7 linked regions of the Homo sapiens genome follow. The protein of the gene in region 3 purifies or fractionates together with the protein of the main gene of each other region. This does not show direct contact. Each region holds a gene or a part of one and is shown on either strand. Other genes may lie near its edges.

The links.
Region 1: the proteins of PHF11 (region 3) and CP purify together in Homo sapiens (affinity purification with mass spectrometry; one large-scale study listed by BioGRID and IntAct). This does not show direct contact.
Region 2: the proteins of PHF11 (region 3) and KNG1 purify together in Homo sapiens (affinity purification with mass spectrometry; one large-scale study listed by BioGRID and IntAct). This does not show direct contact.
Region 4: the proteins of PHF11 (region 3) and SDR16C5 purify together in Homo sapiens (affinity purification with mass spectrometry; one large-scale study listed by BioGRID and IntAct). This does not show direct contact.
Region 5: the proteins of PHF11 (region 3) and HRG purify together in Homo sapiens (affinity purification with mass spectrometry; one large-scale study listed by BioGRID and IntAct). This does not show direct contact.
Region 6: the proteins of PHF11 (region 3) and POF1B purify together in Homo sapiens (affinity purification with mass spectrometry; one large-scale study listed by BioGRID and IntAct). This does not show direct contact.
Region 7: the proteins of PHF11 (region 3) and APOA4 purify together in Homo sapiens (affinity purification with mass spectrometry; one large-scale study listed by BioGRID and IntAct). This does not show direct contact.

The regions. Positions count from the first base shown.
Region 1 is NC_000003.12:149,176,830-149,180,329, reverse strand, and holds part of CP (ceruloplasmin precursor), read left to right. Parts: intron 1-667; coding exon 668-774; intron 775-1,698; coding exon 1,699-1,915; intron 1,916-2,350; coding exon 2,351-2,490; intron 2,491-3,500. UniProt on the Homo sapiens protein: Multifunctional blue, copper-binding (6-7 atoms per molecule) glycoprotein. It has ferroxidase activity oxidizing Fe(2+) to Fe(3+) without releasing radical oxygen species. It is involved in iron transport across the cell membrane.
Region 2 is NC_000003.12:186,716,101-186,720,158, forward strand, and holds the start of KNG1 (kininogen-1 isoform 1 precursor), read left to right. Parts: upstream 1-1,258; 5' UTR 1,259-1,442; coding exon 1,443-1,637; intron 1,638-4,004; coding exon 4,005-4,058. UniProt on the Homo sapiens protein: Kininogens are inhibitors of thiol proteases.
Region 3 is NC_000013.11:49,519,953-49,523,452, reverse strand, and holds part of PHF11 (PHD finger protein 11), read right to left. Parts: intron 2,560-3,500; coding exon 2,513-2,559; intron 1,411-2,512; coding exon 1,346-1,410; intron 279-1,345; coding exon 212-278; intron 1-211. Other genes in the region: SETDB2-PHF11 protein, read right to left, coding at 212-278, 1,346-1,410, 2,513-2,559. UniProt on the Homo sapiens protein: Positive regulator of Th1-type cytokine gene expression.
Region 4 is NC_000008.11:56,310,176-56,313,675, forward strand, and holds part of SDR16C5 (epidermal retinol dehydrogenase 2), read right to left. Parts: intron 2,114-3,500; coding exon 1,982-2,113; intron 1-1,981. UniProt on the Homo sapiens protein: Oxidoreductase with strong preference for NAD. Active in both the oxidative and reductive directions. Oxidizes all-trans-retinol in all-trans-retinaldehyde.
Region 5 is NC_000003.12:186,669,014-186,672,513, reverse strand, and holds part of HRG (histidine-rich glycoprotein precursor), read right to left. Parts: coding exon 3,463-3,500; intron 2,577-3,462; coding exon 2,486-2,576; intron 892-2,485; coding exon 725-891; intron 1-724. UniProt on the Homo sapiens protein: Plasma glycoprotein that binds a number of ligands such as heme, heparin, heparan sulfate, thrombospondin, plasminogen, and divalent metal ions. Binds heparin and heparin/glycosaminoglycans in a zinc-dependent manner.
Region 6 is NC_000023.11:85,282,166-85,285,665, forward strand, and holds part of POF1B (protein POF1B), read right to left. Parts: intron 153-3,500; coding exon 38-152; coding exon of another isoform or gene 14-37; exon of another isoform or gene 1-13. UniProt on the Homo sapiens protein: Plays a key role in the organization of epithelial monolayers by regulating the actin cytoskeleton. May be involved in ovary development.
Region 7 is NC_000011.10:116,820,505-116,824,437, reverse strand, and holds APOA4 (apolipoprotein A-IV precursor), read left to right. Parts: upstream 1-1,133; 5' UTR 1,134-1,246; coding exon 1,247-1,295; intron 1,296-1,652; coding exon 1,653-1,779; intron 1,780-2,556; coding exon 2,557-3,571; 3' UTR 3,572-3,738; downstream 3,739-3,933. UniProt on the Homo sapiens protein: May have a role in chylomicrons and VLDL secretion and catabolism. Required for efficient activation of lipoprotein lipase by ApoC-II; potent activator of LCAT. Apoa-IV is a major component of HDL and chylomicrons.

The sequences.
Region 1 (3,500 bases), on a different chromosome or scaffold from region 3:
AATGCCAAGGCCGAGGGTGTGGTTATGTCCTGTATGTGGGAGTAGTGACAAAACAGCACATGGTGTGATAGAATGAGATGGACTGGAGGGGGAGGTAAACATAACTGTGTCAAGTCGGTGACTCATGAGATCAAGAGGTCTAACGGCTCCTCGCCAGGAATCATGAGCTCACTAAGGATGATCATGAGAGAGGACAAGGAAAGGAAGCCAATGCTGAAGCTGAGGGAATTACACAAAATAGTCCAGATACACACATGCAGAGATTACGGGAAAGGTGCCAGCCACTGGGGAAAAATCACTTGGTATCTGAAGAGAAAAAAGTATATTAGGAAAACACACTTCAAGCTAAGAAGAGATTGGTTGCAAAGTTTTTTCAAATTGTAATATTGAAGTACACACCTCCTAGCTTTGTGGTATGGCAAGTGGGTTATAGCTAATTTAAAATTAACCCAAAAAATGACAAAATTTTGTCTTCCAGTTCATCTTAAAACTAAATTCCTGAAAACAATCTTGAGTACCACAATTTTTAAAAACTAATTACACTGACATTTCCAGTTCCTGGGTCCTAGTTATCAAGGCTGTGTGTGTGTGTGTGTGTGTGTGTGTGTGTGTGTGTGTACAATATAAACCAAATACAACCAGATCCATTAACACTTGATGAATTTAGGTGAAACTCTCACTTACGTATGGAAAATCCCAGAAAGATCTGGAGCTGGAACAGAGGATTCTGCTTGTATTCCATGGGCTTATTATTCAACTGTGGATCAAGTTAAGGTAAAATACAAATCATTTGTTTTGTGACACTTCCCAAAATAGACACACAATTGAAGGAAGACAAGGTTAGTGTTTTCCTGTGGTCCAATTCTACGTTAAAATCCTAGGAAAATAAACTGTTTGCAATCTACTTTAGCAACTATGCTGCTACCTATGACACACAAGACAAAAATCTAACATTTCCTAATATGATACAGCTCAAAGGCCTTTCAAGATATTTGGGAAGTTTAGATTTTTGTCTTGTGGGTCACAGGTAGCCACTGAAAAATTGACCAAGAATGGCAGTATATTTGCATTTCAGATCCTTCATTCTGGTGGAATGAAGGAAGGCTTGGAGGGGGAAGAGACTGGAGGTTGGGAGGCCGTTGTAATACGTGAGGCAAATTTCAAGGACCTCTACTGTAAGGAGGGAGAAAAGAAATGGAGTCGGTTATAGATAGGTGGGTGAAGTGCCTGAGTGAGCCGGGGGAAGTAGCTCCTTGATAATTCAGTGTTCTGGCTCAAACAAATGAGTAAATCTGGTATTTGTGGTCCTATTTATTATTACACATTTCATTCATCTATGGATTTTTAGGGACTGCCATAGCGCTTGGCTCACACTCAAGAGTTCATGAGTTTATGGAACAAACCAACACTGTTCATTTGGGATTCTTTTAAAATCACTGCTCATTAGCTGAGCTAATTTTTGCCTCTGCAGACATTTCTGTTATGTCAGCATCACCCACATGACCTACCTACTACTCACCATTGTTCCAATTTAACTACTTCAAGTGAAAAGTTACTAAATTGGCAGTACCACATTGGGCAAAGTCTGTTACTTCAATTGGTCTCTCCAAAATTCCTGAGGCCCTGGGTGCAAAGTCTCAGTTCTCTGAAATCCTGACCTAATTCACAAGGGTTACTGAAGATTTTTCTTGTTTCCAGGACCTCTACAGTGGATTAATTGGCCCCCTGATTGTTTGTCGAAGACCTTACTTGAAAGTATTCAATCCCAGAAGGAAACTGGAATTTGCCCTTCTGTTTCTAGTTTTTGATGAGAATGAATCTTGGTACTTAGATGACAACATCAAAACATACTCTGATCACCCCGAGAAAGTAAACAAAGATGATGAGGAATTCATAGAAAGCAATAAAATGCATGGTATGTCACATTATTCTAAAACAATTTTTCTACTTTTTTATCATTTTCTCTTTCAAATAAAATTATTTTGGAGACCATTCATTTGTTTTGTCTTAAAATAAACCACTTCTGCCTCACTTTGTATGTCAGGTAGAATCCTGTTCAAAACAAAAAGGGGACTATGTTCAAAATCATTTGCTAATTTATTTTCCAATTCCAAAATCTCATTTCCTTTGAAATAATCCAAAACTAAGATTAAGGCTTTTGGTGCAAAGTGCCTAGAAAAGCAATGTGATATTATTGACTTTAAAGTATCCATTTCTCTCATTTGTAGTAAAATAAGTCCTATTACATCAAAAAGATTCTTTACATTAACCTAATAATCATATTTTCTTTGAAATAGCTATTGGTTTAAAATATCCTGAAAAGTAACATAAAACCATATGCTTTCCCTAGCTATTAATGGAAGAATGTTTGGAAACCTACAAGGCCTCACAATGCACGTGGGAGATGAAGTCAACTGGTATCTGATGGGAATGGGCAATGAAATAGACTTACACACTGTACATTTTCACGGCCATAGCTTCCAATACAAGGTAAGAGCTATCCATGGCAATTACTCTTGCTCTGTTTGAAAATGTTTTAATACAAGTGAAGAAAATATTTTCTCAGAGAGACTTATGAAAAAAAGCTGCAAAGAGTACAGCCGGTGCTTCATATCCGTGGATTCCCCACCCAGGATTCAATCATGGATTGAAAATATTCAGGAAAAAATAATTCCACTAAGTTCCAAAAAGCAAAACTTGGATCTGCTGCACTGAGTACTATGTTGAATCCATGCAAATGAAATGATATGTAGGCACTGTATTAGGTATTATAATAATCTAGAGATGATTTAAAGTATATGGAAGGATGTGCATAAGTTAAATGGAAATATGCCATTTTATATAAGGGACTTGAGCATCCATGGATTTTGGTATGGGGGCATTCCTGAAACCAATCCTCCATAGATACTGAGGGATGCCTATATAAGGCACAGCAATTTCAATTGACACACTAGCCTTTGTTACACATTGAGCTCTTCCTAGGATTTGCATTTTTAACTGAATTTTCATGGAGTTCTGCTCAGATTCCTGATTAAGGCAACTGAGCGGAATTGCTAACAAAGAGGGTAGGAATGTTCACATAATGATGGATGAGAGTAGAGACCACAACAAGACTTTATTATAACCCTTGCCCTGCCTGTTCTAAGTTCTGTATCTTAAATGGCCCATGGTGAGCAAGATCAGTTAGGTGACAAGCAACTGGTCTGTACATCTCAATCTTACTTCTATTCTTTCTCAGTACTGATTTCAGCAGAAGCCAGTGGCCCTCCTGGAAATGCTTTTTCCTTATGCTTTGGGCTAATTTAGAAAAGGCAGAAGTTATCAAAAAGCATACTGCAGAAAGCCTGTTTTGTTACCTGCATTTTGTTTTACATAGATATATTGTATTCTTAGTGGGCTTTCAATTCTATCCTTGCAGAAATAGACTATTGTCACCCAACTACTGTTTCCAGCCGAGACTCCCTGAAGTGCCTCTGGTTTTTGTCGTTTTCATCAGCCTC
Region 2 (4,058 bases), on a different chromosome or scaffold from region 3:
TTTTTTTTTGGACAGAGTTTTGCTCTTGTTGCCCAGGCTGGATTGCAATGGCGCAATCTCAGCTCACTGCAATCTCCACCTCCCGGGTTCCAGCAATTCTCCTGCCTCAGCTTCCCGAGCAACTAGGATTACAGGCATGTGCCACTACGCCCGGCTAATTTTGTATTTTTAGTGGAGATGGGGTTTCTCCATGTTGGTCAGGCTGGTCTCGAACTCCCGACCTCAGGTGATCCACCCATCTCAGCCTCCCAAAGTGCTGGGATTACAGGTGTGAGCCACCGTGCCTGGCCAATTTTTACTGGAGTAAGGATGTTGATACCATCAAGCCTCACACTTCTGCTGAGATTATCAACTGTAGTTTTCCAATGTTGGTCTACAGGTGGGGACCATTCTGTAATATAGTTTCCCCACTCTGTGTTGATGTGAGGAAAATAAGAATAATAAAGTTTTATTGCTGGCTTTGAGGGAGAAGGGTTCTATGACCCGCCTTGGGGAAGAGAAATTCTAGCTTCTGTGGCCTGCCTTGAGAGAAGTGGAGCAGGAGAAAGACGGGCAGGAGAAAGCAAGAAAGAGACTTTGCTTTTGCAGCCTTTTTAATGTCTTTCAGTTCAAAGTACTCGGCATGCCAAAGAGCCATATTTGGGGCTATCTTTTTCTGTGCCAAACCAACAACACCAAACCAGAAAGAAGCAAGCATAGGGAATCCAGGGCTTCACTCAACCCATCCCTTCCTATGCTTTTCCTCTATCTCCACCCTGGGAGCAATTTTCTTTTACAGAACTAATGCAACTGAGCAGAGAAAGGCTGGCCTGTCCAGAGAGCAGATAGGACGCCCATATTTTATTTTCAGTTGTGCCAATGTCCTGCATGGGACTCCTGGAACTCACTGGATGCCCCTGTGCATGAGCTTCTTAGGCATGTAATAGAATTAACAGCAGTCTGCTTCTATGCAGGTAGGTATCCTGCAAAGAAACTTTGTATGAAATGTGTCTGCACATTGTACTCATTCTTGCATTGTTTACCCATGTAGTGACCTTCAAAAATGGCTTTGCAAAAGTCACAGGGGAATAACCGAGTTAGTAGGCACTTGTTTCCCCTCCTTCATCAGATTCTGCTCTGATTTGCTACATAAAGTTGTATAATCACCTGGAAATATGCACTGTGCTGCCACGTGATTTTCAAATGCAAATGAGCAGGTTAACAACCCCAGTGTTGCAATGTTCTAGCTGTAAATATGTTTGGATAACCCAGCAGAGCCATTTAACCTTTGGGAACAAGGCAACTAGCGTCTGGCAGCAGGAATCCAACCAGTGCCCTGAGTTCTGAGGCAGAGAGGAGGACAGAAGAAACAAGAGGCTGGAGATTGTCAAATTCAGTATCCCAGTTGGCTCTTGATTCTTGGTGAAACCATCCCTCAGCTCCTAGAGGGAGATTGTTAGATCATGAAACTAATTACCATCCTTTTCCTCTGCTCCAGGCTGCTACTAAGTTTAACCCAGGAATCACAGTCCGAGGAAATTGACTGCAATGACAAGGATTTATTTAAAGCTGTGGATGCTGCTCTGAAGAAATATAACAGTCAAAACCAAAGTAACAACCAGTTTGTATTGTACCGCATAACTGAAGCCACTAAGACGGTGAGTGAATTGTGTTTAACCTTGAAGTCACTTGGGATTTGTACTATCACTAGGAGTCCAGGCCTCACACACACACACACATACCACCACCAGCACCCACCACCACCACCCACCACCCACCACCATCACCCACCACCACCACCACAACCACCACCACCACCCACCACCACCACCACCATCCACCACCACCCACCACCCACCACCACCCACCACCATCACCCACCACCCACCACCCACCACCACCCACCATCATCACCCACCACCACCCACCACCATCACCCACCACCCACCACCACTCGCCACCATCACCCACCACCATCACCCACCACCCACCACCCACCACCACCAACCACCACCATCCACCACCACCAACCACCACCCACCACCACTACCACCCCTCACCACCCACCACCACCGCCACCCACCACCCACCACCATCACCCACCACCACCACCATCCACCACCACCACCCAACCACCACCACCCACCACCCACCACCATCACCCACCACCCACCACCACCCACCACCCACCACCCACCACCATCACCCACCACCTACCACCCACCACCCACCACCACCACCACCCACCACCACCCACCACCCACCACCACCACCACCCACCACCACCCACCACCACTACCACCCCTCACCACCCACCACCACCGCCACCCACCACCCACCACCATCACGCACTACCAAATATGTGATCATCAAAGGTAGAAGCTTACAACTTGTGGAAAGACAGATACCACTCTCTGGCCTGGGGTGGGAGGACAGAGTATGACTCGTCCTCAGGCAGGTTGGCTTCCTGGATGATCAGAGAAGTAGAATCTAGGGTGAAATGAAACAAAAGTAGATGGAGAAATCTCAACAGGACCAAGTAGAGAGGGAGAATTTAGGAATTTAGTTAGACTGCAGCAAAAGAATTCACTGGGTCTCTGGCCCTAGGCTAAAAACTATAGAACTCCAAACCTTTAATGGGAGGGGGTACTTCATGGGGCATGTCTAAGAGGAGTGAGGAATGAGGTTAATGTGATTCTACGGAATTAGACAGAAGTCTGTATGGCTGAATGTACTGGGTTTAACAGCAACGTTTTAGTTAGTTTTTGATATTATTGCAATGATGCACTCCAGCAGGAGACAAATCCTGGCAGGATGCATGGTTCAAAGAAATACCAATCTTTCAAGAGTATGTTTAAACAAATTTCACTATAAAAGACTATATCTCTGGGAATGTCAAGCAATTGGTTACTTTAGCAGAAAAAAAAAAACTAGCCATGTGACAACATGGGGATAAAGGAAAATAAACACAGTGGACATGTTATTTTTTCTGAAAGTAAAATCGAGCCATTTTCTTTCATAATCTAGTACAGTCATGTGAGAAATTCTGCTTCATGGTGATCTCAAGCAACAGTTTATTGGTGGTGTGGTACCCAATAGATTGTGGGTATGGTTGTAAATATACTAAAAAACATTAAATTGTATGCCTTTAGTGGGTAAATTTTATGGCATGTAAATTATATCTCAATAAAGCTGTTTAAAAAAGAAAAAGTAGGAAACAAAATAAACCAAATAAAAGTACTAAAATCACCCATAATTAATTCCACCATACAGAGATAACTGTTAACATTTGTTTAAGGTTTTCTTGTTTGCTTTTTCTAATTTGTAAAAGTCATATACGTTCATTAGGGGAAAAAGACCACTTAGAAATGTTTGCTTGGGCCGGGCGCGGTGGCTCATGCCTGTAATCCCAGCACTTTGGGAGGCCAAGGCGGGGGGATCACGAAGTCAGGAGATCGAGACCATGGTGAAACTCAGTCTCTACTAAAAAATACAAAAAAGTAGCCAGGCGTGGTGGAGGGCGCCTGTAGTCCCAGCTACTCTGGAGGCTGAGGCAGGAGAATGGCGTGAACCCGGGAGGCAGAGCTTGCAGTGAGCCGAGATCACGCCACTGCACTCCAGCCTGGGCGACAGAGCGAGACTCCATCTCAAAAAAAAAAAAAAGAAATGTTTGCTTGAAGAAGAAAGTGAAAGATAATTATAATCTCACCACTGACAGACAAACATTTTAACAGCTTGCTGTGTATCTTTCCAGACTTTTAAAAGACATAGATTTATATATAAACCAGTTTTGACAAAAATGGGCTAATACTATGCATACTGCTTTGTAACCTTTAAAAGTACATTGTGAATATATTATAAACATTCTTTCACATAAATGTTTATGATAGAAATATAAATATATTTTAAGTGAATGCTTTGCTCTCAAGTCAAAGATCAATATTCCTAACTTTACCGGAACCCACTAGAATTATTTGCTGTTGGGTCAGTTGGATGAACCCTAAGTATCTTTGGCTGCTTTTCAGGTTGGCTCTGACACGTTTTATTCCTTCAAGTACGAAATCAAGGAGGGGGATTGT
Region 3 (3,500 bases):
TACTGAATGCAATGGACCATTCCAACCTAAGTTATCTTGATATGCTGGGATTACAATAGAGTGGACAGTTGCGATAAAGATTTATACTCATTAATTACCACAAGCCTAGAAGAATAAAGATTTAGGCGGGATACCAAGTTTGAAACAGGTGGGTTGACATTTTTATAAGTATTGTAGGCCATATTTGTTACAGACAACACTTAGCGCAAACCTGTGTGTCTGCCATGCTCTTCTTTCACTTGTCTTATGAATGTATTACATTTCATTGTTTCGGGTGGCTAGGAGAGAAAATCAAGATTGCATTACATTGATTTTAATATTGCATAAAATGAAAACCAGTCTTTTGCTGTGCATAACTAAATGATATGCCTACAGTAAAAATCATGCCCTGGCTGGGCGCGGTGTCTCACGCCTGTAATCTCAGCACTTTGGGAGGGCAAGATGGGCAGATCACAAGGTCAGGAGTTCGAGACCAGCCTGGACAACAGGGTGAAACCTTGTTGCTACTAAAAATACAAAAATTAGCCAGGCGTGGTGGTGCATGCCTGTAATCCCAGCTACTCAGGAGGCTGGGGCAGGAGAATCACTTGAATCCAGGAGGCAGAGGTTGCAGTGAGCTTAGATCACACCATTGCACTCCATCCTGGGTGACAGAGAGAGACTCTGTCTCAAAAAAAAAAAAAAACAAAAAAACCCCATATTCATATTTAGATGTAAACATCAAATATATTTTTGTTTTGTATTATAAAACATTAAGAGGTGTTTGACAAGCACCCCTTGTATAAACAGGAGGAGGTGAAGGTTGCTGGCGCATATGAATTTAGCTTATATGTGCTGATGTGTAAAAACTCAAATCCCCAAAATATTTTCATACATTTTATACATAATCCAGAAATTTATAAGAGCTACAGATTTGGTCAGGTGTGGGTCATGCAGCTGGGAAATACTTGGCTCCATAAGGATGTTTGACTGCACCCTCTGCCCGTTTTAACTGTAAGCACCTGTGGGGTCAGATGCTCTCACTAGTTTGGTGCCAGGGAATTTATAGGAGCTCGGAGAATGTCACCTCCTGAAGGTTATGTGCTTGGAACTTCCAGCTTCATTTTCATGCTCATCTCATCATGATTCTATCATCTAGGAATTATCTAAGAGCTTCCCGACTATGGGATTCTTCCTAAAAAGGCAACCTCAGGAGCAGCCTTAGCTGAGAACACAAATGAAGAATGTTCTTCAAAGGCTCTCTGTTTGGACGATTTGGAAAGTACCTTTCACCTGACATTCAGACTGGTTTAAATAAGGACTCTGTATGAAGAAATGCAAAGCTATAAAAACTAAGTCAAATTACCTGTACATGATTGCCTGAGAGGGGTTTCTTCCTTCCTCTTTTTCTTTTCACTCCTGAAAATTTAGCTAAAAATATAAACCATTTAAAAATTGGAATCCATAAAGGAAAAGATTACTGTTTGACTACATGAAATATACAACTCATATGCCAAAAGTTTTTACAAAGTCAAAAGATATGGCAAACTTCAACTAAGTGTTTGCAGCACTTATGATAAAGGGTTAATTTTTAAAAAAGATATTATAAGTTTAATGCAAAACAGGTAAATAATTGAGTAGAAAAATTGGCACATGGGGAACTCTCTGGGGAGAGGGTTCATTGAATAGAAAAATGAACAAATTGGGTCATAGGAAAACAAATATAATTGGTGAAAAGATATGGGAATGCACTCAATTTCACTCAGAAGATATTCAAAGTAAAACAGACTAATAAGGATGAAGATATTTAATAGATGACATTTGCAAGGATTTGGTTAAGTGTGTATTGCTGGTGCTTTTCCCTGTCAATAAACACTGATTTAAAGAAGTATCTGTAATAGCCTTTCCTGCTGAGTTAAAAGGGTAACGACTGAAAAATGATTGTAGAGGTGCTATTTGGAGAATGTTATCACCATAAAATGCAGTTGGCATGACGCAGAACGAAGTCTTCCAACGAGGTCCTGACTCCACTTCACAATGAACATTGCAGATGTAGTGCTGCTAAGACACTGCTGTTCCACTCATGAATGAAAGTATACCCCATGACTCCAGTTAGCCAGGATCCAGTCTGCCTTAATTAGAACTGAAATGCTAACCATGCATCCTTAGGGAATTTTCACTCAGGGAAGGTGCAGCACTTTTAAAATTTTATCTACTGAAAATTCTTATGGAAGAGAAGCAGTCCCAAAAGTCAAGGCTTTTTCCCATGTCTTAGTTTGGTTCTGTGAGCGTAGGGAGAATGAAAGATACCAGGGAATGGTTCAAAGAGAATAGGTCTTGTTCATAAAGAAGAAAAAATTAGTCAGTCATATCACATAGTACACAAAGAAGTTGTCAATTTTCTAGATGTGTAAAATTTTAACTCAAACATTTGTATTTTAATTCAACGAGGCTAGAAAATTAGACTATTCCTTATGTTACATAAATGTTTACCTTTCTTTAAAACCCACAGTGCTAAATTTTAGAAACTTACCACTTTGAGCGATGATCGGGAATTGAGCATGTTGCTGGCAAAGCAGTCTGAAATATTTAATTTCAAAGAATTGTAAAATATTTTTATTTACAGGTTTCAAATATTATGTCTATTTTTGTGATTAAAAACGTACCAACCTACTTTTCATGACGGCGTCACACTAAAGTTTTTTTTTTTGAAGCCCTGTGTAAAATTAGTGACCCACACTGAGTGCAGATGGAGACTCAGTTAGATGTCTTTTATGCCCTCAGGGACTTAGGAAGATGATTATGTTCTTTCAAGGAATGAGTACTGATGAAGTATTATGAACAATACTAGTTCATATACAGTGGTCAGTGAGATTTTACTGTATAAAGATACCTAAAGATCCACAATCTAAGACATGCAGATTTCCATCTGACTGTACAAGATTCTGCTGGTTTTCAACAATAAATAGCACAAAATTGCAAGCATTAATTTAAGGAAAAAGTCATTTTCGATGAAAACAGGTATTTGCCCCAGATCTTAGATTTGACCTACAAAGGGCCTAGAACTGATTAGTATCTTCCAAGAGAAAGCAGCAGCATAGCAGGCTATGATGAAGAAATGAAGTGAGGCCGGGCACGGTGGCTCATGCCTGTAATCCCAGCATTTTGGGAGGCCGAGGCGGGCAGATCACGAGGTCAAGAGATGGAGACCCTCCTGGCCAACATGGTGAAACCCCGCCTCTACTAAAAATACAAAAATTAGCTGGGCATGGTGGCACGTGCCTGTAGACCCAGCTACTCAGGAGGCTGAGGCAGGAGAATCGCTTGAACCCAGGAGGCTGGAAGTTGCAGTGAGCTGAGATCGCACCATTGCAGTCCAGCCTGGGCCACAGAGCAAGACTCTGTCTTAAAACAAAACAAAACAAAAGAAATGAAGTGAATCGTTTTATAGAGCTGCTCAGGCCACTTTCTAACCTTTCCTCCTCCTCGGCACCCAGCTTCATCTCCCTTCCTCTTCAGAT
Region 4 (3,500 bases), on a different chromosome or scaffold from region 3:
GGAGGAGGAAGGAGGAGGAGGAAGGAGGAGGAGGAGGAAGGAGGAGGAGGAGGAAGGAGGAGGAGGAGGAAGGAGGAGGAGGAGGAAGGAGGAGGAGGAGGAAGGAGGAGGAGGAGGAAGGAGGAGGAGGAGGAAGGAGGAGGAGGAAGGAGGAGGAGGAGGAAGGAGGAAGAGGAAGAAGAAGAAAAGAAGAAAAGAGAGAGACAGACACCATGAAGGCACCTGGGGAAAAACAGAGAGGTAGGAAAAGAACACAAAGCCAGGCCAAGCGCAGTGGCTCACACCTGTAATCCAAGCACTTTGGGAGGCTGAGGCGGGCGGATCACAAGGTCAAGAGATGGAGACCAGCCTGGCCAACATGGCAAAACCCTGTCTCTACTAAAAGTACAAAAATTAGCTGGGTGTGGTGGCGTGCGCCCATAGTCCCAGATACCTGGGAGGCTGAGGTAGGAGAATTGCTTGAACCCGGGAGGTGGAGGTTGCAGTGAGCCGAGATCGCGCCACTGCACTCCAGCCTGGCGGCAAAGTGATACTCTATCTCAAAAAAAAAAAAAAGAAAAAGAACACAAAGCCATGGGAGTGGAGACTTCCAGGGACCATGGTCTTTATCTTCATTCTGACTATATATGAGTATAAGCAAGCACCAAGGAGAGGGACATTTGGGACAAGATAAATCATTTGCAGTAGTTCTTGTAGGAACATGGTAGCCACTAAATTCTGAATCTTTCCATTTTTCTCCTGAAAACTTTACAAAACACCAAGAATAGCACCAGCACCATTACATTTTTGGTGGAAATAGGGGACAGAAAATCTACAAATTCCAAATTACATTTGAAGGCTGCTAAAGAAGACTTGGGTGGAAAGGTGTGAGGAGAATGGAGGAGGAGCTCAGAAATCTCCAGCAAAGACTCCCAAGAGAGAGCCTTGCCCAGGAATGACGAGCTACGAGCAGGGCTGGAACCAAACAGGTCAAAAGTCCTGTGATCCCAGCACTGTGGGAGGCCAAGGCAGGCGGAACACTTGAGGCCAGGAGTTCAAGACCAGCTTGGCCAATGTGGTGAAACCCTGTCTCTACTAAAAACACAAAAAATTAGTTGGGTGTGGTGGCGCGCACCTGTAATCCCAGCTACTCAGGTGGCTGAGGCACGAGAATCGCTTGAATCCGGGAGGTTGGAGGTTGCAGTGAGCTGAGATCACACCACTGAACTCCAGCCTGGGAGACAGAATGAGACTCTGTCTCAAAAAATTAAAATAAAATGATAAAGTAAAATAAAAATACAACTTTTAATAAAAGCTGGGAGAGGCAGCAAGAGGGTGCATGCATAGTGTGGGGAGGCCTGAGATGGCTGGTCTCAGCAAAGGCCAGAAACATGCAACTTCTGGAATTGAGTGGGTGGCTTTAGAAGTCAGGACTGTGCTTTTAGCGCTGGTAGCAGGTGGTAACCTGGGTTACCAGTGGAACCTCTAATTTCTCTGGTTGGGTACTAACTAAGGTGACTATAGGTTTTGGTTTGCCCATAACAGACCTGATTAACACTTGCTCATTAATAATGCTGAATTTCACTTCCAAAAGTGTCCCAGCTTAGGCAAATTACAAAGCTACCCTGGTCCTGTCTAAGTGCAGTTGCTCGCTATGTAGCCTGGAGCAAATCTTTTAAGTTCTATGATCCCTTATCTCACCGAGCTGTTTTAAGGAAAATATGTGAGCCACCTGGAGTATTTCCTAACATTTGCAGCTAATCAATACATGGTAGCAGGACCATGAGGACAGTTCTGTCCTTGTAGAATTCCCTAAGCAGAGGTCCTGGGGGCTGTAGATTAAGTGGCATCAGAAAAGGACAACTGTGTAGAACAGGACAAGTCCAAAACTGAGAAGTCTCTGCTTTACTTAGAGGCTAATAATATTGTAAAAGAGCAAGAGGAAAATACTTCCAAATGCCAGAATAATTTTACATTTATGATGAGAAGAAACAATTATTACCCATAAATGTGCTTTGAAATTCACATCAAATGACTTTTCCATAAGCTCATCTGGACAGTCAAGGAACTTTTTGCCTGTTACGATTCCGGCATTGTTGATTAGGATGGAAACATCGCCGACTTCTTTTTTAACCTGAATTGAATAAGAGCAACACCACCAATGTAGTAATTCCTTACATGGGCTAGGTTTTATTTTCCCAGAGTTTTATGTTTTTTTTATCCTGGTTAATTCATACTGAGTTTATGCACTCTAAAAATACAGCTTGGGGCCAGGCGCAGTGGCTCACACCTGTAATCCCAGCACTCTGGCAGGCCGAGGCAGGGGGGTGACTTGAGGACAGGAGTTTGAGACCAGCCTGGCCAACATGGCAAAATCCTGTCTCTATTAAAATTACAAAAATTAGCCAGGCATGGTGATGCGTGCCTCTAGCCCCAGCTACTCGGGAGGCTGAGGCAGGAGAATTGCTTAAACCAGGGAGGTGGAGGTTGTAGTGAGCCAAGATCACACCACTGCACTCCAGCCTGGGTGACAGAGTGAGACTGCATCTAAAAAAATAAATAAAGAAATAAATACAGGTTGGTTTATTTCCATTGCTGAGTCTACAATGCACCACACACCAAGTTTTTTTTTTTTTTTTTGAGATGGAGTCTTGCTCTGTCGACCAGGCTGGAGTGCAGTGGCACGATCTTGGCTCACTGCAAGCTCCGCCTCCTGGGTTCCCACCATTCTCCCGCCTCAGCCTCCCAAGTAGCTAGGACTACAGGTGCCCACCACCACACCCGGCTAATTTTTTGTATTTTTAGTAGAGACAGGTTTTCACCGTGTTAGCCAGGATGGTCTCGATCTCCTGACCTCATGATCCACCCGTCTTGGCCTCCCAAAGTGTTGGGATTACAGGCATGAGCCACTGCGCCTGACCTCCAGAGATCAAGTTTTGATGTGCTTTTCCCATTTTTCTCTTCTTAAAATGAGTCCATGTTCAAAATGCTACTTTCTGTTTACAGTTAGAGCTGTTCTTCTACTCAGTGGTTAGTAACTTTGTTCTGTGCTCTGTATGTGGCATTTCATTTTAATCAATATGATGGGACATAAGAATAGCTTCATTATAGCCAAATGTGACATAGATCAAGACCTCACACACGGAGAAGGGGCTGGATTAGGGAATAAATAGAGGAAAAGAGAAAGTACAGTCATAAATCACTTAACAATGGAGATACATTCTGAGAAGTGCATTGTTAGGTGACTTGGTTGCTATGTGAAGATCACAGAGTGTACTTAATAAACCTAGATGTGTGGCTACTACACATCTTAGGCCATATGGTAGAGCCTATTGCTCCTAGGCTACCCACCTGTACAGTGTGTTACTATACTGAACACTGTAGGCAACTGTTAACACATTGGTTAAGTATTTGTGTATCTAATCATAGAACATTGGGACAGTAAAAATACTGTAATAATCTGTCCCATAATGTGGGACCACCATTTTGTATATGGTCCATCACTGACCAAAATGTCATTA
Region 5 (3,500 bases), on a different chromosome or scaffold from region 3:
TTCATTCTCATTTATTTGATGTGTTTCCTCTTCGAGTGTTTTCCTAGATGTGTTACACATACACAGGGAGATCTAAGTGTTTCATATAAATGGGTCCATAGTCTAAGTACTGTTCTATAACCTGCATTTTCCTATACCAATATGTTTTCAAACTCCAGTGCGCATGGGTCCAAACATTCTTTGAGCAACTGCATGGTACTCATTTCCTTACTTGTATGCAACACAATCTATTTAACGCTGCATTTTCTGAATGCATAGCAAATGTCAACCAGTTGCTCTACAAGACAGCTCTGGGTGAAAGTACTTGGGTCCTTGTAGAGAGAGCAGGGAACCATCTAACTATAGGCACATTACTGGGTGTGGTGAGGTAATTTCTCTGAACTTCAGTTTTCCATCATAGTACAAGAATGTTAGTATTGGATGATTTGCAATGACACAACCCTCATATGTTCTTGTCTTTCCCTGTTTCCTCTTTAGATTTTCTCCCTACTCTGTCAGATGTCTACTCCCCTACCCATCCTTCAAAAAAAAAAAAAAGTGTTTGAGGAAAGCAATTTTTTTGTATTTTTTAAATACCTGCTGCCTGTCTTTTATGGCCTCAAAAGTGACAAATTAAAAGGCAGCTAGTCAATTGAGGCAGGTGGAGAGGGTATGCCATTCAGTTCCTGCTGCCAGGTTGGAGCCTGGGCCTTCAGACTCCAACCGAACCTTAGTGGAGACTCACCACTCTTGCAACTCTCTCGATTCGGTCCACTCTGAAAGAGGCAAAGTCATCATTCTCCTCTTTGTACTTCTCAAGGGCTTTGTTGGCTTGTTTTCTGTAGCGCTCAGTATCCTCAAAGAAATCTATGAGGACCGGACTATCTTTGGTATTGGCCAGTGCTGAAGAGACTGGAGAAAGAAGATAGCAGTGTCACAGTAAAGGGCTGGAAATGTTAATGGTGGCTTGGTGGCAAGAATGACAATAACTTTCATTTTAAGGATGGGCAAATTGAGGGTGGGAAGAGCTGAGTAACTGCTTCAAGATCAATCAGCCATTTGGCAACCGAACTAAACTGCTGATTCTTCCTTCGAGTCTTTCTGATCCCCATGTCTATGTTGTGACCCCTACTCATGATGCCTTCACCAGTACCACTGATAAAGTGCTAACATATATATATAAATATGACAACTATGACATTCGTTAATATATAAATATATATTATCTATTATATAATATCTATTATATATTTATATATTATATAATATATCATATGTTTTTATATTATATAATCATATATTTAGGTATTAATATGATATATATATTAACATATATATTAAATAATAGAGATGGGGTTGAGTCACATTGCCCAGGCTAGTCTCAAACTCCTGGGCTCAAGCAACCCTCTGGCCTCAACCTCCCAAAGTGCTGGGATTATAGATGTGAGCCACCGCACCAGGCCACTAATATTTTAATAAGTTCTTCCTGTTGTTGCCAAGGGGGAAGACAGAGCATTAACATAGAGTTTTGCCCAGAGAGAGGAGAAGATACAGATCATCCTTTCTTCAATGCAAACTCCTGTGGCAGTATCTTGCATTTTTGTATATAATATCATATTTGGATTTGCTATTTTAAAAAGGAATCCTGTGATAATTCTATTTGAAAATGTAAATTAAAAGGGTATGGAGGCTGGGCGTGGTGGCTCACACCTGTAATCCCAGCACTTTGGGAGGTCAAGGTGGGCAGATCACCTGAGGTCAAGAGTTTGAGGCCAGCCTGACCAACATGGAGAAACTCCATCTCTACTAAAAATACAAAATTTGTTGGATGTGGTGGCATATGCCTGTAATCCTAGCTACTTGGGAGGCTGAGACAGGAGAATTGCTTGAACCCGGGAGGTGGAGGTTGCAGTGACCCGAGATCACACTATTGCACTCCAGCCTGGGTAGCAAGAGCGACACTCTGTCTCAAAAATAAAAATAAATAAATAAAAAAGCTGTGGAATTTAGAGTTAATACTCCTGGGATTGTGTCACATCTTCACAATATCTTGGCTTTGTTCTTGAGGCCAAGTCATTTAACTTCTTTGAGCATCAATTATTTTGTCTTAAATAGAAAGTGTCATAACCTTTACTTCATAGTCCCAAGACTTTACTTCCTCCCAAGACTATACAACTGGCAGATGATGACTCAAGCTAAAGCAAGCCTGACTCCAAAGCCTATATCTATAATGAGGCTAACCTACCTCTCCTAAATCTCTATTTTTATGTGTTGAATTTCTTTAAAAGAAGGTGTACCAGTACCAGGGAAATTTGTCTCAATTCTATTCTCTGGAGAATGAATAATAATGGAGTCTATGAAGGCTTTTCTTTCATGTACATCATAGATATACATGAATACATCTGAATATATATGAATACATATGTACATAGATGAGACAAATACCACTGTATGATTGAATTTGTATTAATCAAGAATTAATTAGCAATTTAACAGATTACCATACCAGAACTTGTGGTGCAGTTAAAGTCAATCACTCTGAGGTCCTGAGATTCATGGGAATGTCTTGTAGCTATTACCTTACATTGTCCGATCACCTGTAAGAAAGAGGCTCTTGAGGACTTGCTGAGTCATTGCATCCTGCCTTCCTCAGGTCAGATATGAAAGAGCAAAAAGGTGATGCAACATCCTCCTACTGTTCATTTAAAAATGCATTTCTTTCATCAAAGCTTGTCTCAAACCCTGCATTTTCTTAGTCAGTTTCTGTGTGCTGCATCCTGTTGGCACTCAAAATCCTCAGGAGAACCAGCGAGAAACTATTTAAAGCATCATGGCCATACCCCAAACATTTTCAAGGGAAAAAGTGGTGAAAGTTCCAGGAGTGTGAACCTCTCATTTTCTGGAAATGAAATCTTGAATCTCTGCTTATTCATCTTCATGTTCTCCACCTGTGTCAGAGAGCCTGGCATGTCAATACCCACCTCCCACATGCAAAGCCAGATCTTATTCCTCAGTGTATATCCTAGGTGCTGAGCAAGACCCAATTCCTCACTGCAAGTAATTACTTTGGCCATTCCTGAAAATAGGACCATTGTTCATAGGACACAATTACAAGTTCATAGATTCTGATACCTGTAGACTGTCAAGAGTGGAAGGCCCTTAGAGTCCATGAATTCCTAAACCCACTTCTTATTTTACAGTCAAAAAACACCAAAGTGGAGGGATGTTATTAGATGATTTACCCAAGGACCCACAGCTGGTTATGCTCTTTGATGGGACCACACACCCTGCTGAGTTGTCTTGAACTGGGTTCCCAGGAAAGACTCTCAAGAGTATTGCTCAAGGTTAACATCATCTTCATGAATCTCAAGGCAAAAGCTGCCCTTTCTCTTCTACTGTGTTAGCCCAGGCATTGGCTGAGTGAACAGAGTAGATGGAAAATAAGAATGAAAAGAGCAGAGTGAAGGTGCCCTCTTTACTTACTATTTCAGATGGACGTCTGGAATCAGGTGGCTCACAGT
Region 6 (3,500 bases), on a different chromosome or scaffold from region 3:
CGTCAAAATAGGGCTAAAAATGCCCAAGTGAACTTACACAAGTGTATTTGTCTTCTGTTTTCTCAATCACAATAGTCTGTGTTTCACTACCTGGTGGTATATATTCGTAGTCATCATATAGGAGGCCTAGGATTGGATATTGTGTCCTGTACCTGTTGGCAAGAAAAGAGTTAGTTTACAGGCTGCATGAGAAAATAACTTTCATTCCTTTTTAGTCACTCCTAGTTTGATTGCCCTAATTAAGCCAATTCGGCTCTGAATGACTTTTTAACTGTTACTGAAAAAACAAAAAAATAAAAAAACCCTATTTCAATGGACAGAGATGTACAACCATTATTTTCAAGAAAATAAAATAGAGGGACTTCTGTTTCTGGCCATGATGGACGACTGGCAGCACAGGACAGTGACCCCAGAAAAGGGAAGCAAATGATATGGGCCCTACAAGTGCCTAGCTCACTGCCTGGAGAGATTTTCTTGGTCACGGGATAAGTAAAAGGAAGCTAAACAGATCCCAGCAGTCTCACCAAGATAAGGTGATAAAGTTTAGAGTAAATATAGGCAAAGGCACCCAGAGTTTGTGGGGCAGAGTATCAGACAGAAGAGAGCTACATAGATAGAGAGAGGTCAGGACAGCTGTAGAGGTTTTCCCAAAAGCCTTTGGGTGAAAACTGATCAGTGTGCCTGTATGTGAAGAAGCTACCAAGACTTAGGAAATAATGACTAGAAAGGAGCAGGCTGGCAATTTTGGGAGCTCTCATAGGGATGGTAATGTTTTGTGTTCCACTAACAAAACCAGAGTGAAAAGCTCTCCTGATATAGAGGCCATCAGATAGATACTGCAGAATATTGCCTTAGTAGTGGGATAAAATTAGCCTCAAAGTACAGGTTATTCTCAAAGAGTTTAAAAGCAAGGCTTGGATGTATTAAATTGTTTCCAAATAATTTCATCTCAGAACAAAACTCCAAATATTTTAAGTAATACCCTAGCGAAAATCTAAAACTCAACAATATAAAATCACAATTCATGGCATTCAACGAAAAATGAATAGTCATGCAATGGACGATACGACTAATAATGAAGAGAAATATAAATTAGTAGAAACAGACCAAGAGACAACACTGATAAAAAAATTAGTAGGTAAATGTGCATCTATTAGAAACATATAAAATATACAAGGTATATTCAAGAAGTTAGAGGAAAGCATGAACACAGGAGAGAAATAGATAATATAAAAAAGATCCACATTGGACTACTAAACATTAAAAAAATTAGGTGGAGTTAACAGCAGATTAGGCACTGCATTACAAAAAGACCGATAAATTTTAATACATCAAAATAAATAATTTAAAATAAAACATAAAAGAAAACGGAAAAAAATGAATGCAGCATGAAATAACTGTGGAAAATATCAAATGTCCTCATATATATATAATTAAAGTCCTGCAGGATTGGTGGTGGAAAAAAATAATTGACATAATGACCAAATTATTTCCAAGCATGATGTAAAGCTATAAACACACGTATCCAAGAAGCTCAGTGAACGTGAAAAAAAGAAACATGAAGAAAACTACAGAGAGGCACATCATTATCAAATTCTTGAAAACCAGTGAAAGAGAATCTTAAAAACAGCCTCAGAGAAGAAAGGACATTATTCAAAGAACAAAAATCATAAGATTAACAAAAAACTTCTCAGTCACAATGAAAGTCAGAAGACAGAAGAGCAATATTGTTAAAGTACTTTTTTAAAAAAAATGTAAAAAATCTCCTTAAGCTGATAAGCAACTTCAGCAAAGTCTCAGGATACAAAATCAATGTGCAAAAATCACAAGCATTCCTATACACCAATAACAGACAAACAGAGAGCCAAATCACGAGTGAACTCCCATTCACAATTGCTTCAAAGAGAATAAAATACCTAGGAATCCAACTTACAAGAGATGTGAAGGACCTCTTCAAGAACTACAAACAACTGCTCAAGGAAATAAAAGAGAACACAAACAAATGGAAGAACAGTCCATGCTCATGGGTAGGAAGAATCAATATCGTGAAAATGGCCATACTGCCCAAGGTAATTTATAGATTCAATGCCATCCCCATCAAGCTACCAATGACTTTTTTCACAGAATTGGAAAAAATTACTTTAAAGTTCATATGGAACCAAAAAAGAGCCCACATTACCAAGAAAAACCTAAGCCAAAAGAAAAAAGCCGGAGGCATCACGCTACCTGACTTCAAACTATACTACAATGCTACAGTAACCAAAACAGCATGGTACTGGTACCAAAACAGAAATATAGACCAATGGAACAGAACAGAGCCCTCAGAAATAATACCACACATCTACAATCACCTGATCTTTGACAAATCTGACAAAAACAATAAATGGGGAAAGGATTCCCTTTTTAATAAATGGTGCTGGGAAAACTGGCTAGCCATATGTAGAAAGCTGAAACTGGATCCCTTCCTTACACCTTATACAAAAATTAATTCAAGATGGATTAAAGACTTAAATGTTAGACCTAAAACCATAAAAACCCTAGAAGAAAACCTAGGCAATACCATTCAGGACATAGGCGTGGGCAAAGACTTCATGACTAAAACACCAAAAGCAATGGCAACAAAAGCCAAAATTGACAGATGGGATCTAATTAAACTCAAGAGCTTCTGCACAGCAAAAGAAACTACTATCAGAGTGAACAGGCAACCTACAGAATGGGAGAAAATTTTTACAATCTACCCATCTGACAAAGGGCTAATATACAGAATCTACAAAGAACTCAAACAAATTTACAAGAAAAAATCAAACATCCCCATCAAAAAGTGGGCAAAGGATATGAACAGACACTTCTCAAAAGAAGACATTTATGCAGCCAACAGACACATGAAAAAAATGCTCACCATCACTGGCCATCAGAGAAATGCAAATTAAAACCACAGTGATCTCAGGCCACTTAGAATGGCGATCATTAAAAAGTCAGGAAACAACAGGTGCTGGAGAGGATGTGGAGAAATAGGAATACTTTTACACCGTTGGCAGGACTGTAAACTAGTTCAGCCATTGTGGAAGACAGTGTGGCGATCCCTCAAGGATCTAGAACTAGAAATACCATTTGACCCAGCCATCCCATTACTGGGTATATACCCAACGGATTATAAATCATGCTGCTATAAAGACGTATGCACACGTATGTTTATTGTGGCACTATTCACAACAGCAAAGACTTGGAACCAACCCAAATGTCCATCAATGATAGACTGGATTAAGAAAATGTGGCACATATACACCATGGAATACTATGCAGCCATAAAAAAGGATGAGTTCACGTCCTTTGTAGGGACATGGATGAAGCTGGAAACCATAATTCTGAGCAAACTACCGCAAGGACAGAAAACCAAACACCACATGTTCTCACTCATAGGTGGGAATTGAACAATGAGAACACTTGGACACAGGTTGGGGAAGATCACACACTGGGGCCTGTCGTGGGGTGGGGGGAGG
Region 7 (3,933 bases), on a different chromosome or scaffold from region 3:
AATCCCAGCTACTCAGGAGGCTGAGGCAGGAGAATCACTTGAACCTGGGGGGCAGAGATTGCAGTGAGCTAAGATCGTGCCACTGCACTCCAGCCTGGGTGACAGAGTAAGACTCCATCTCAAAAAAAAAAAAAATTGCACCTGTACTAAACATATACAGACTTTTTTGGTGATTACCTCCTAAACAATACAGTATAACAACCATTCACACAGCATTTCCGTCGTATTAGGTATTATAAGTAATCTAGAGATTTAAAGTATGTGGGAGGCTGTGCTTAGGTTATATGCAAATACTATGCCATTTTATATCAAGGACTTGAACATCCATGGATTTTGGTATCTGCAGAGGGTCCTGGAATCAATTTCCCATGGAGACTGAGAGATGACCGTACTACCCACTTCGCAAGCAATGTCTTCTTTAATGTACTGAACCATCCCATTGTTCAGAGGAGAAACTGAAGCTCAGGGCTTTGAATAACTAGACCAAGGAGGCACAGCATGGGAGTGGGACATGAAGCACTCTACAATTAACCCTTTCAGGACAAGGCCCTGTCTCCCACACCCATCTGCCCAAAGGCTCTCCAGGGCCCCCTCCTCTTGGGTGTACCTTGACAAGAGACCTAGATTTTAGCTCACTATGCTGTCTGCAGTCCTGGATGGTCCCACTCCAGTGTCTGGTGCTCTGAGATGGAGTCAGCATTAGTGGCGGATGTGGAGACTGGGGGGACCTGTCTTCACTGGGGTAGACAGAGGAGATGTGGACTTTGCCCCCCATGAGCCCGGCACAAACCCAGAGCCGCCAGCAGGGCCTCGAGGCATCAGTCCCGGGCTCATGGGCTCCCTGAGGTGTTTCTCCTACTGTTTTCCGTTCCCCTCCTCCCTTCCATGCTGAGGTTGGTGGGGTGGGGGTGGGGGTGCCCACGCACGGAACAGCCACCACTTCTAACTATCGCCTGAGCCCTGATCTGCTGTCAGCTTCCACGTAGTCTCAGGGTCACAAAAGTCCAAGAGGCCTCTTGGGAATGTGTCACCTTCCAGCGTGGAGTCACACTGAGGAAGGAGGAGGGGAGGGCAGCCAGGGGGGTGGCGATAGGGAGAGAGTTTAAATGTCTGGCTGGCTCTGAGCTTCAGTCAGTTCCCACTGCAGCGCAGGTGAGCTCTCCTGAGGACCTCTCTGTCAGCTCCCCTGATTGTAGGGAGGATCCAGTGTGGCAAGAAACTCCTCCAGCCCAGCAAGCAGCTCAGGATGTTCCTGAAGGCCGTGGTCCTGACCCTGGCCCTGGTGGCTGTCGCCGGTGAGTAGAAGCTGTCTTTGGATGGCACTCCTGGGCTGCTGCTCTGAGTAGTGCAGGATGGAGGCTGAGCCAAAGCAAAAGGACACTTCTGAGTGCCCATCAGCCCCCAGCTGGACATGAGGTCTGCCTGGCTGCCAAGTGGCTCACAGGAGAGCTGGCCCAGTCCCAGTGGTGGGCCCATTGGCATTGGTGCTATACCAGTTTCACATATCCCTGTGGCTTCCAAAAAGCTAAGCTCAGACAGGGAAAATGGCAGGTTGAGGCACCCCCACCATCATCCAGTCTGCAGCTCAGAGCTGGAGCAGAGGGGCCACACAGGAGACGGGGCCTCATGAATTGCTCTCTGTTACCACCCAGGAGCCAGGGCTGAGGTCAGTGCTGACCAGGTGGCCACGGTGATGTGGGACTACTTCAGCCAGCTGAGCAACAATGCCAAGGAGGCCGTGGAACATCTCCAGAAATCTGAACTCACCCAGCAACTCAAGTAAGAGGGACTACAGTGTGCGGTGGTGACGGGGAATTCTTAAAGGCCATGCAATGTACTGGCAAGGGTTGAGCTTAGAGACAGGAGCCCTGAGCTTAGGATACCCACTGCCCTGCCACTAACTGGCCGGGCCTCTGAACCTAGGATCCACATATGTAAACCGGAAGTTTGGACCGAATAATCCCTGCCATGTCCTTTTGCTTTGACGTTCTAGAGTTTGACAAATGGCCACATCCTATCATTCAGGCTCATGGAAGAGAGGGAGGGAGGAAAATGTCACGTGAGCTGATTTCTAATACGTTTCAGAAAGACAGGCCCCAGTGGAATCAAGGGGAGGGAGGTGGGAATATTTGGGAGGCCCCTGGGCACAGGCAAGGAAAGCAGCACCTTGTGCCACTGGAAGACCCCAGCAGAGGTCAAGAAGACAACATTGTGTTACACAATGTGATCCTATGGCCCAGAACACTCCCTCTGGGAAGGACCTCAAAGTCCCACCCTCTGCAGACAAGGAGGGGAAAGCAAACTGCTGGAGGTGACATGGTGGGTAGATTCTGAGACAAACTATGTGGGAGATCCTGAGATAGAAATTCAGCATCGTAACTTAGTCTGTGACACCCATCCTCTCCAATCTGCACCACCATAGGGAGGGTGAACTCGGTACCTCTGAGCACTCACCTGTCCTAGCACGTGTGCATAAGGCGAGTGGTATACAAGCAGACAAAGTCTTGCCGTGTAAATGCCAAATGTAACGTGGCCTCCTTGTGCCCTTCCCCACAGTGCCCTCTTCCAGGACAAACTTGGAGAAGTGAACACTTACGCAGGTGACCTGCAGAAGAAGCTGGTGCCCTTTGCCACCGAGCTGCATGAACGCCTGGCCAAGGACTCGGAGAAACTGAAGGAGGAGATTGGGAAGGAGCTGGAGGAGCTGAGGGCCCGGCTGCTGCCCCATGCCAATGAGGTGAGCCAGAAGATCGGGGACAACCTGCGAGAGCTTCAGCAGCGCCTGGAGCCCTACGCGGACCAGCTGCGCACCCAGGTCAGCACGCAGGCCGAGCAGCTGCGGCGCCAGCTGACCCCCTACGCACAGCGCATGGAGAGAGTGCTGCGGGAGAACGCCGACAGCCTGCAGGCCTCGCTGAGGCCCCACGCCGACGAGCTCAAGGCCAAGATCGACCAGAACGTGGAGGAGCTCAAGGGACGCCTTACGCCCTACGCTGACGAATTCAAAGTCAAGATTGACCAGACCGTGGAGGAGCTGCGCCGCAGCCTGGCTCCCTATGCTCAGGACACGCAGGAGAAGCTCAACCACCAGCTTGAGGGCCTGACCTTCCAGATGAAGAAGAACGCCGAGGAGCTCAAGGCCAGGATCTCGGCCAGTGCCGAGGAGCTGCGGCAGAGGCTGGCGCCCTTGGCCGAGGACGTGCGTGGCAACCTGAGGGGCAACACCGAGGGGCTGCAGAAGTCACTGGCAGAGCTGGGTGGGCACCTGGACCAGCAGGTGGAGGAGTTCCGACGCCGGGTGGAGCCCTACGGGGAAAACTTCAACAAAGCCCTGGTGCAGCAGATGGAACAGCTCAGGCAGAAACTGGGCCCCCATGCGGGGGACGTGGAAGGCCACTTGAGCTTCCTGGAGAAGGACCTGAGGGACAAGGTCAACTCCTTCTTCAGCACCTTCAAGGAGAAAGAGAGCCAGGACAAGACTCTCTCCCTCCCTGAGCTGGAGCAACAGCAGGAACAGCAGCAGGAGCAGCAGCAGGAGCAGGTGCAGATGCTGGCCCCTTTGGAGAGCTGAGCTGCCCCTGGTGCACTGGCCCCACCCTCGTGGACACCTGCCCTGCCCTGCCACCTGTCTGTCTGTCTGTCCCAAAGAAGTTCTGGTATGAACTTGAGGACACATGTCCAGTGGGAGGTGAGACCACCTCTCAATATTCAATAAAGCTGCTGAGAATCTAGCCTCAACTGGTTGCCGGATGAATCCTCCTTGCAGCTGGGGAGGTGGGGAGGTAACCATGACTGGGCAGAGCTTAGCAGCGGCCTGGCAGGAGACACCCAGGATTGGGGAGATGAGACTGCAGGAGAGGTAAGGGCCTGGTGGACTGGAGGCGAGTACATGGGGAGTCCTCTAAGGGGAGGCAGAAAAAGATGTCACACATT